Homo sapiens: one gene and its partners. The protein of the gene in region 2 purifies or fractionates together with the protein of the main gene of each other region. This does not show direct contact. Each region holds a gene or a part of one and is shown on either strand. Other genes may lie near its edges. The genes, in order: ADD1, RNF144A and MYO5C.

Evidence for each region.
Region 1: the proteins of RNF144A (region 2) and ADD1 purify together in Homo sapiens (affinity purification with mass spectrometry, with the first as the bait; one large-scale study listed by BioGRID). This does not show direct contact.
Region 3: the proteins of RNF144A (region 2) and MYO5C purify together in Homo sapiens (affinity purification with mass spectrometry, with the first as the bait; one large-scale study listed by BioGRID). This does not show direct contact.

What each region holds. Positions count from the first base shown.
Region 1 is NC_000004.12:2,850,277-2,853,925, reverse strand, and holds part of ADD1 (alpha-adducin), read right to left. Parts: intron 1-3,649. UniProt on the Homo sapiens protein: Membrane-cytoskeleton-associated protein that promotes the assembly of the spectrin-actin network. Binds to calmodulin.
Region 2 is NC_000002.12:7,018,270-7,021,918, reverse strand, and holds part of RNF144A (E3 ubiquitin-protein ligase RNF144A), read right to left. Parts: intron 1,447-3,649; coding exon 1,239-1,446; intron 1-1,238. UniProt on the Homo sapiens protein: E3 ubiquitin-protein ligase which accepts ubiquitin from E2 ubiquitin-conjugating enzymes UBE2L3 and UBE2L6 in the form of a thioester and then directly transfers the ubiquitin to targeted substrates.
Region 3 is NC_000015.10:52,247,247-52,250,895, forward strand, and holds part of MYO5C (unconventional myosin-Vc), read right to left. Parts: intron 1,538-3,649; coding exon 1,454-1,537; intron 347-1,453; coding exon 212-346; intron 1-211. UniProt on the Homo sapiens protein: May be involved in transferrin trafficking. Likely to power actin-based membrane trafficking in many physiologically crucial tissues.

The DNA of each region.
Region 1 (3,649 bases), on a different chromosome or scaffold from region 2:
AATGCAATTAAAACATAATAACGGCCAGACGCGGTCGCTCACGCCTTTAATCCCAGCACTTTTGGAGGCCGAGGCAGGTGGATCACCTGAGGTCAGGAGTTCAAGACCACCCTGGCCAATGTGGTGAAACCCTGTCTCTATTAAAAATACAAAAACCAGCCAGGCGTGGTGGCGGGCACCTGTAATCCCAGCTACTTGGGAGACTGAGGGAGGAGAATCGCTTGAACCTGGGAGGCGAAGGTTGCGGTGAGCCGTGATTGCACCATTGCACTCCAGCCTGGGTGACGAGAGCAAAACTCAGTCTGAAAGAAAAAAAAACAACATAATAACAGAAGAGTTTCTTCAAACCATATATTTAGAAATTTAAAGGTACATTTTAAAATAATTTATGGGCCAAAAAAGAAATCATAATGAAAATTTAAATATACATTACTAACAAAAATATTACAGTTGGAAACTATTGGCTTCACTAAAGAGATGCTTCTAGAGAGCTATATAGCCTTAAACACTTATACTAGAAAAAGACGCCGGTGGCTCACACCTGTAATCCCAGCACTTTGGGAGGCTGAGGTGGGCAGATCACCTGAGGTCAGATGTTTGAGACCAGCCTGGCCAACATGGTGAAACCCTTATCTCTACTAAAATTATAAAAATTAGCTGGGTGTGGTGGGCGCCTATAATCCCAGGTACTGGGGAGGCTGAGGTGGGAGAATTGCTTGAACCTGGGAGACAGAGGTTGCAGGGAGCCAAGATCGTGCCACTGCACTCCAGCCTGGGCAACACAGTGAGAACCTGTCTCAAAAAAAAAAAAAAAAAAAGTAAGTGACCAACTTCTAAAAAGTTACAGAAAGAACAGAGTAAAACCCAATCTAGCAACCTGTACATTCATTATGCTTTAAACACTATATGTAATTTGTATCCTTAAAACAACTCTGATGGTTAGATTACAGCTATTTCCACAGCTACAAATGTCCTGCTTATCTGAGTTTAAAAGCACCTTCAGGCCTGCCTGGGCAACATAGCAAGGCCTTGGCTCTACTAAAAAAAAAATTTTTTTAGTTAGCTGGGTGTGGTGGGGTGGGTCTGCAGGCCCAGCTGCTCAGGAAGCTGGGTGGGAGGACTGCTCGGGCCCACGAGGTCAAGGCTGCAGTGAGAGCCAAGATCGCACCGCTGCACTTCAGCCTGGGTGACAGAGCAAGACTCTGTCTCCAAAAAAAAAAAAAAAAAAAGATATTTCCTGCTTTACAAACAGTACAGAAAACACCTAGTACAGAAAATAGAAGACACTGAATGCTGCAGACACCCTAGGTCAGTGACATTGCTGGTGATTCTGTTGTCAAAGTATGTGTGCTTCAGTCCCTGGAGACGTTGCTCAGAAAAAAACTGAAATGGAGTATCTGCGAAACCCCATCTCTACAAAAACACACAAAAATCAGCCGGGTGTGGTGCTGTGCACCTGTAATCCCAGCTACTCAGTACGCTGGGGCACAAGAATCGCTTGAACCCGGGAGGCGGAGGTTGCAGTGAGCCAAGATCGCACCACTGTACTCCAGCCTGGGCGAAAGAGCGAGACTCTCTTTCAAAAAAAAAAAAAAAGAAAGAAAAGAAAAGAAAAAAAAGAAAAGAAAAGAAAAGAAAAGAAAAGAAGGAAGGAAGGAAGGAAGGAAAGAAAGAAAGAGAAAGAAAGAAAGAAAGGAAAGAAAGGAAAGAAAGGAAAGGAAAGAAAGGAAAGAAAGAAAGAAAGAAAGAAAGAAAGAAAGAAAGAAAGAAAGAAAGAAAGAAAGAAAAGAGGCCGGGTGCTGTGGCTCATGCCTGTAATCCCAGCACTTTGGGAGGCTGAGGCGGGCAGATCACCTGAGGTCAGGAGTTCGAGACCAGCCTCAACATGGGGAAACCCCGTCTCTACTAAAAATACAAAAATTAGCCGGGCGTAGTGATGCATGCCTGTAATCTCAGCTACTCGGGAGGCTGAAGTAGAATTGCTTGAACCTGGGAGGCGGAGGTTGCGGTGAGCCGAGATCGAGCCATTGCGCTCCAGCCTGGGCAACAAGAGCGAAACTCCATCTCAAAAAAAAAAAAGAATAAAAACTGAGTATCCGGATGGTGGGGGTCATCTATTTCCCCCCTAAAGACTGGTCAATTAACATCACATCCCTTCCTACTGAAGGAGACACTCAGACCAAAAGGGAGTTCATTCTATGAGACTAAAGACCATTCCTAACCTTCCTTCCTGCCTGAAGCCCTATGTGACAATAACTTGAATAACTTGATTAATGGTATCATCTGGCAACAAGGTTGGCCTTTTAAGAAAATCTTAGAAAGCATGGTTTAACCACAAAGTTCCTACTAAACTGCAAACACATGCAGCTGTATCAGACAAAAAAATACCTCTACATAGGCTTTATTTTGAGAGAGAGGGAGAGACAGACAAAAAAGAGCTACAAGGCTCTCTATTGCATCTTCTGTGTCTTTCCCTCTTAAGGCCTGCTCCTCCATCCTCTATGTTCTGGAAAAGAAGGAAAGAAAGCACACTGACAGAATCCTCACATACTGTAAGCATTGTAAGTTTGCTTACCACAGCCTCACACCTCCAGTTAGATATGACTGTTATTATTATTACTCCTATTTCTGCAGATGAGAAAAATTAGTTCAGAGAATTTCACCATTTTGATCCAGGGCCACACATCTTGAGTGGCAACATTTTTAAAAATTAGCCAGCTGTGGTGGTATGCACCAGTAGTCCTAGCTATTCCGGAGGCTGAGGTGGGGAGGATTACTTGAGCCCAGGAGTTCCAGGTTACAGTCAGCTATGATTATACCACTGTTCCCCAACCTGAACAATAGAGCAAGACTGTCTCTAAATGAAGTATACAGAGTTTTAGTGTATTCAGAGTTGTGTAACTAATCATCACAATCTAACGTTATAACATTTTCAACACCCAAAAAGAAACCCCATACACATTAGCAGTCATTCCTCATTCCCACTCCATTCTCCCCAGCTGGAGCCCCAGTCAACCCCAAATCTACCTTCTGCCTGTATAGATTTGCCTACTGGGGGTCAGGTACAGTGGCTCACACCTGTAATCCCAGCACTTTGGGAGGCCGAGGCGGGTGGGTCACTTGAGGTCAGGAGTTCAAGACCAGCCTGGGCAACGTGGTGAAACCCCATCTCTACTACAAATATAAAAATTAGCCGGGCGTGGCCAGGCGCGGTGGCTCACGCCTGTAATCCCAGCACTTTGGGAGGCCGAGGCGGGCGGATCATGAGGTCAGGAGATTGAGACCATCCTGGCTAACACGGTGAAACCCCATCTCTACTAAAAATACAAAAAATTAGCCGGGCATGGTGGCAGGCGCCTGTAGTCCCAGCTACTCAGGAGGCTGAGGCAGGAGAATGGCGTGAACCCGGGAGGCAGAGCTTGCAGTGAGCCAAGATCGTGCCACTGCACTCCAGCCTGGGCGACAGAGCAAGACACCGTCTCAGAAAAAAAAATCAGCCGGGCATGGTGGCACACACCTGTTCCCAGCTACTCAGGAGGCTGAGGCAGGAGAATCGCTTGAACTTGGGAGGTGGAGGTTGCAGTGAGCCAAGATCGCACCACTGCACTCCAGCCTGGGCAAGAGAGTGAGATTCAGTCTCACAAAAAAC
Region 2 (3,649 bases):
CTAGAATGTCACAGATAAAGAAAACTAAGTCATCAGGCTCCAAACACTCACCAGCCTCCATCTAAAGTTTTGAAGCCCCTAAGATGCCAAGTACACGTGAAGTATAAGTACAAGTGGTTCGTGCTTGCAGCTGCCTGCCTGATGCAGGCTGCTCAGAAAGGCCCAGGCCCTGTGTGTCAGGAGCTCATCCTGATGGCAGAATCGGCCTTGTCAACGCAAGAACTCAAATCCAATATGTCCAGGGTTGTAATCAATGCAGAGAATCTCAGGGGGAACACAGAGGGTGGAGGCCCCAACCCTGTCCTCGGAACCATGAAGCTTGACAAAGGGATGTGATCCCCACCTGAAGTGTGGCAGGAGCCCCCAGGGAAAGGAGGAGGGCAGAGCAGGGCACTCCAGACACGGGAAGAGAGGTTCGCCCGGAAGGAGACCAGGGGTGTGTGGCAGGGACCCTGAGAGGGTCGGGGGCTAGAACAGGGCACAGGGGTCACACGGAAAGGAACAGGAGCTGGGGACGGTGGAATGGGAAAAGGGGCGCACAGGGAGCAGCTGGTGAGCACACCCTGGGGAGGGTGGTGGGTAGAGTGGCAGCTCCTCTATGAGGATCCTGGACTCAACAGGAGCAGGGGCAAGTGTCCAGCAGAACCACGTGACCTTGTAGATTTTGTAGGAGAAAAAGACCTGGATATGATGAATTTCCTATGCATCAACCTACGAAATGTCAAAGTACAGAGCGTGGTGCGGCAGCATTCTCCTGGGCAAACAGCCCGACTATGGCTGCAGGGGAGGCCGCCACCAGGGAGTGTCTCCCCATCCCCCTCCAGACAGTATTTATGACCAGTGCACCCTACTCCTGTTCTTGTTTCTGTACCCCCATTTCAGATCACCTTCAACACAGTGAAGTCTTGCAGAAACTTCAGGTACTGCAGGACTTGCAACCTTTAAAAGTAACAAACCACGCATGCATTTGTCATTCCAGCCAAGCCGTGTTAAGTGTGGTTCTCACACACCTTTCTATTTCCAGGGCCTCACACAGTGCCTGGTACATAGTCAGTTCTCAAAAATAAATAGACATACAAATAATGACAGGCTTGAGTGAGGCTCAAGAGGTACAGTGTGTGTTAGGGTTGACTGAGCCACAGCCACTTACACTGTAACAGCACTTTTAGGAAGAAAGCATGCCTGCTTCTCCTGGCCCACAGCCATGCCTTTGGTGGCAGCTTGTGTACAAAGGGTACCTGGTCTCCCCGGGGAGGAAGGTGATCGGCATGGTCTCCGGGCAGCCCTGGCCAGGGTGCCAGCTGGCTTTGCAGGTGGAGCAGAATTCCATACGGCAGGCTTTGCACTGCACTGGCTGGGGGGTCTGCAGCCCCACGTCCTGGAGCTGACACACAGCTTGGCAGGTGGACGCCGGGCACCAAGTCCGACAGGGATCAAACAGCACCTCTGGTACAGTGAGACAAAATGGACAAATCAAACTTAAGCCAGAGGGTCATGTGGGCTTCAGAGGAAGGAGCCCCTCAGTGCACGGACAGGGAGGAACATGTCCAGGTAATACAGCCAGCACCACCAGCCCCAACCGAAGCACCGCCCAAGCCACCCTTCCACCTCCACCTCCGCTGTAGCTCTTCCCAACTTCTCCCTTCATGCAACAGACCTCCAGACACCCAGACATCCCTCAGGAATGCTGCTCCTGCCCCTGGAATGCCCTTGGAGCCCTGGGTCAGCCCTGCTTGCCTCTGACACTCAGCTCACAGCTCAAAGGCCTCCACATCCTGGAAAGCTTGGCCCACCTGCCTGTCGGGTTTCTCTGAGCAATGCACATGGCGCTAGCTCATCTGCCTCCCCTAGGGGACAGTTTTCTGAAGCTGGACCCCTGATGGCCCCATGTTGGGCATACAGCCAGCACCAGGAAAATGCTGCTAGAAGACCGAGAGGAAGAGGGAAGGAAGATGGCTGGATTGTTCTTCTAACCAAATGGTTCACCTGCCTAAGATGGCCTCCCCTTCTCAAATCCAAGCCACGAGTTAACTACGGAGTGAAACCAATCCTTCAAGGGCCAGATTTTCTCTCCAAATCACAGCACACATTTCTAAGAAGCCCAATTTAATGGAATTAGCCACAAAGTTTATTTCTAAAAACAAGACACTTTGACACATCTATTTCTTCACATCCTTGTCCAAAAATTGCATTTCTTTAAATTATTGGCTGCCCTTTGTAGGAAGACTGGTTGTTCATTTCATCTTCCCTCTTGTCCAGCATGATGCCGAATTCTCGATCAGTGGCCACCCCAGGGAGCAGCAAGGCTCTGCCAGAAAGCTCTCCCAGGCCAGTGCAATGTGGGCTATTTCCAAAGGCGTTCTGGTAGGCCACTGGTTTCTAAGTTTTCAGCGGGGCTCTTCTTGGGAAGTAGTCAGGACAACTGAGTTTCAGAGACGACTTGAAAGGCGATGACAAGTCCTTGCAAATGTCTGGGCCCTGTGACTGGCCGCCGGGCAGCTCCCGCTCGCCTGTGTCACACATGGGATTCCTACTCACTGGAATCCACAACATGCTGGCGCCGCACGTGGACCGGGACTTCACCTACACGCATTGCCACGGGACCAGCAGGAAGTTAATGACAAATCACCCACTGGGTGTCCTGACGGTGCACACGCATACGTATGTGTAAGGCTCTGTGTGTTTACCATGTTCCCCAAATACATGGGGAAGCCAGATTCAGCTCTCCAGAAACCATCTTGTGTAGGGTCTAGCTTTGAAATGATCTAGTCATCTAATCCAGGGGCTGGCAAACTTCCTCTGCAGAGGGTCGGATAGTCATCATCTAAGTCTGAGGACCATGTTGTTTCTGGGTTTCTGTCGCAGCTACTGGGCTTTGCTGTTGCATAAAAGCAGACACAGTGATCTGGAAATGAATGTTCTAGCAAAACTTGACAGCAGCAGGCCACCGGCGGGACTGGATTTGGCCCACTAGCCATGGCTGGCTGACCCTTGATCTCATCTGGCTGCCCTCTGCCTTTTTTTTTTTAAGCATGAATTAATCAACAGCACAAAACTGTCAGAATGTTAGGGGTGGCAGAAGATTAAGAAGAACTTGATAATAACAAGGAACGCTGGAGGTCAGGAACAGGTGCTCTACTCTAATTATCTTCATTATAATAATCTAAAATCCCCAGGATGCTCCTCATACTGAATGAATGGACAAAATTAGCTCTTCTCTTATTTGTTGATAGTTTCCACATTTGCTTTTCTAAGAATGTTCCTAGCTGTCAGGTCTGACAAAATGGCTTTTTGAGAAAACGCAGTTGTTGTCTGTGGGTCACATGTGTGGGGGCAGATGCCTGGGGCTCCCCTGAGCTGACAGTCACAGCAAAGCAAGGAGGGGGTGCACATGCCAGCCTGGGGCACTGAGCGCCACGCTGAGCAGTGAGGAGGAAACGCCAAAGGCTAAAGGCAGCTGGCCTGGGTCATGCTCCCATCCCGTCCCCGCGATGCCTCCGACAACTCTCTGCCTGCCCTCTGTGAGTGCTGTGGGGTGAGCCCAGCTTTGTCCCTGATGAGATAGGAGGCCCATGTCTGCCCAGCCCTGCGGGAGGGTGCAAGTGCTGTGTGCACTAAACAACACGCTGCGCGGGAAGAGAAATCCTCA
Region 3 (3,649 bases), on a different chromosome or scaffold from region 2:
TTGTGCAAGAGCGTGGTTTGCTCCAGTGCGTGCTGCCTTGGAGGTGGAAGTATGACGACGATGAACTTTTTGCAGTGGAGTCCATGTTAGATTGGAAGAGCCCCAGCGTCTGTCCATGTCCAGGCCTGGAATGCGGGTCCTCTGAGTGCCCTGGCTCCCCAGGGCCTGGCCCTGCCTTTAGACCCCTCACTCTCAAACACCTTCTCAGTACCTTGCTCCCAACTGTGGTCCGGAAATGCTTGCTGTTTGGCTTGATGACTTGCTTTGCAGATTTAACTGTAATCATTGAACCAAAAGGAGAAGGAGGAGTTGGATTTTCTTGAAAAAAGTTGGCACAGAGATGAAACTGGAAGGAACAGAGAGGATCTCAATGTCCAAAAGCAACTGCCCACAGTACTCACTCATACAAGCCACGTAAATGGTGACAACAACTCAGCTAAACTAGTGGGCGGTGAACAACCTCACCAACATCTACAGCCAAATCTCAATTCCACAAGACGATCGTCTTTCATAGGGATGGCCCGTGACTTCTTTCCCGAGAAGGGGAACAGAGAAGAAAAGTGTGTAAATGTCTGTATGTGGGTATCACTCTAAGTGTCAGAAAGTGGAAACATCTACTATTCTCACCTCCGTGCCTGGCTCACACTGTGTCTCCACCTGCAATCTCCTCCCTCCTACTCCACATTCTCATCCCTGCAGATCCAAACCCTACCCAGGAATCTCTTAAAATGTTTTCCAGCCCCACCCACTTCGCAATGAATGAATTAATCCCAACTTCTCTGAACCGTCTTCATCTTGTATTTGTACCTCATTTAAAGCACTTACTACCTTCTGCTTTGTATCAGTTATTTCTTTAAATGTCTTATCTTCTCTCAGAGTGAATTTCATATTTTGTTTTGTTTTGTTTTGTTTTGAGACAGGGTCTTGCTCTGCTGCCCAGAAGAAGAGTGCAGTGGCGCAATCATGGCTCACTGCAGCCTCTATCTCCCAGGGCCAAGCAGTCTTCCCCACCTCAGCCTCCCAAGTAGCTGGGACTACAGGCATGTCACCATTCCCTGCTAATGTTTTTTTATATTTTTAGAAGAGACAGGGTCTTGCTTTTTTGGCCAGGCTGGTCTCAAACTTCTGGCCTCAAGCAATCCACCCGCCTCTGCCTCCCAAAATGCGGGGATTACAGGCGTGAGCCACCACGTCTGGCTGGAATTGTGATTCTTCAATGGTTCTATTAGCTGTCCTTCCTGTCATCTGCATGTTTGATTTCTGATTTTGCATATAGTAGAGATTTACAGTAGTTATCTTTTTGAATCTGTGAGCTACAACTTACCACTGTCCAGAGAGTTCACACACACACACACACACACTCTCTCTCTCTCTCTCCTTACTCTTTCCTTATATACATCTAGATCCATGTCAATTATATAATAACTTTAGTTACCCCTAGGACTTTACAGACCTTGCTTGCTCTCAGGATTTCAACCAGCATGTCATAGACGGTGTCTCTGTTTTTCTCCAGGAAACCTTCACATTTATACTCTACCTATACAGAGAAAGCAATTAATTATTCCCAAAGAGGCCAAAGAATATAGCCTCTAAGCACAAGTTTCATCTCTTTTTTAAGAAAGATTAATAAAAAAGGCTACAGAGGCAATCTTACAAAAAGACGTCTGGCTTCTGTGCATCATGGCAGCAGCCCCATTATGTATAAGCTGGGAATGTGTCTTCTCTCCCACCACCTGGGTTTCTCACCTGCCTGCTGATCACTCTGCACTCACCTGTTGGCTCCCTCTGGCCACAGGGGTCCAGTTGCTCCCTGCGGTATGTGCAGTTCCTACAAGAACACCTGACTTAGGTCTCCCTTTGCCTTTGAAGCCACCAGGAGGAGGAAAAAGCTTAGTGGTGTTCATTGGGTTCAAACAGACATCGTTTCCTAAATCAACATTAATGTGGTAGAAAGGATAGAAAAACCGACCAGCTGACCACCAAGCCTTCAAGAGCCACCAAGCCCTCAGAATCAGGTTTAGAGTGGGTCAACCTTTGCACTGCTTGAATCTAGCTTAGAAAAACTCTCCATGCTGCCCTTTCTGATGAAGAAGGCTTCTCGAATGCCTCAAACCATGGCATATCCAGGGTGGCTGCTTCAACATTCAACCTCCCCCTAGTTTATGCCTCTGGATTGCATATCTTAATATGTGATAATTTATTTTTCATAAATTAAAAACGTATATTAAAATTAATTTTAAAAATTGACAATGAGGAAACAGGGGAGAGTGCTGGAATCCGTAAGCAGAGGGTTCCCTGGGCATGGCCTCTGCTTTGTCCCCCAGGTAAGGAAGTATCCTTGCCGGTAGGTAGGTTAAGATCCAGGAACACCGGCTGTTTGCAAACACTTCTTTGTGAATGAAGTACCTGGATTGTTGTACAAATTCTTCCAGAATGGTGGTGTGAGCCACTAGGACAGATAGACAAAGGTGGCAAATACAGAGCTTTCCTGGTCTGGGCGAGCATCTGTGGGGACAGTGTCACATGCAGCTGGTGCCTCTGTTGGGGACTCTGGGACCAAAGGAAGATGTGCTGAGCTGCTACATCTAAGCTCAGCTGACTTGCATTCAATACGACCTGATTTCCCTGGCCAATGAGATTGAAAACCTAATCTAACCCCATAGTGCATGTGGGTTCTTCCCACCAATCAATCCATAGTCCAGCCCAAACGCTGCCTAGTTCTTTTAAGGGAGACTTCTTGGAAGTGGCAGGTGAGAGAATTACATGTCCAGAAACTACATCCTATAAAGAGAGACCCTTGAAAGAAATCCCATATGTGCTTTTTATGGAGTCTGGTCTTTCCCCCTCCCTTTTCCTATGGGACCAGAACCCTGAAATTATGACAATAGCTAGGAAATATAATTTGACATATGATCATTTCATTTCATAGGCATCTTTTCAGGAGCCCATCTGAAAAAGTCTAAGCACTAAAAACTTATCTTTTTTTTTTCTTTTTCTTTTTCTTTTTTTTTTTTGAGACAGGGTCTCACTCTGTCAGCCAGGCTGGAGTGCAGTGGCGTGATCTTGGCTCAATGCAACCTCCGCCTCCCAGGTTCCAGCAATTTTCCTGCCTCAGCCACCTGAGTAGCTGGGATTACAGGTGCGTGCCACCACGCCTGGCTTATTTTTGTATTTTTTAGTAAAGATGGGGTTTCGCCATGTTGGCCAGGCTGGTCTCAAACTCCTGGTCTCAAGCGATCCACCCGCCTCAGCCTCCCAAAGTGCTGGGATTACAGGTGTGAGCCACTGCACCCGGCCAATCCTATATTTTAATATTTTACAGTACTCTGCTAGCACACAAAGGTGATCACAGCTTTCCAGGTTGCTGTCCCCTCCCTCCACCATCAGTCACTCGGGAATGACCAGCTCTGACTCACAGCACCGGCCTCTGCGATAAACATAGACAAGCACAAGCCATTCCTGTGAGCCCTGGCACTGGGCTAGGCCACCAAGGCAACACCCAACCAGGACATGGGAGGAGGTAGGAGCTCCCTTAAGGAAGGAAAACAAATAAGAATGTACATTTAGGGCAGGTGGTTATGGCAATTTTTTCCTTCTGTTTTCTAAGCTTTCTATAATGTGATTTTAACAAAAATTTTTCATTTTAGAC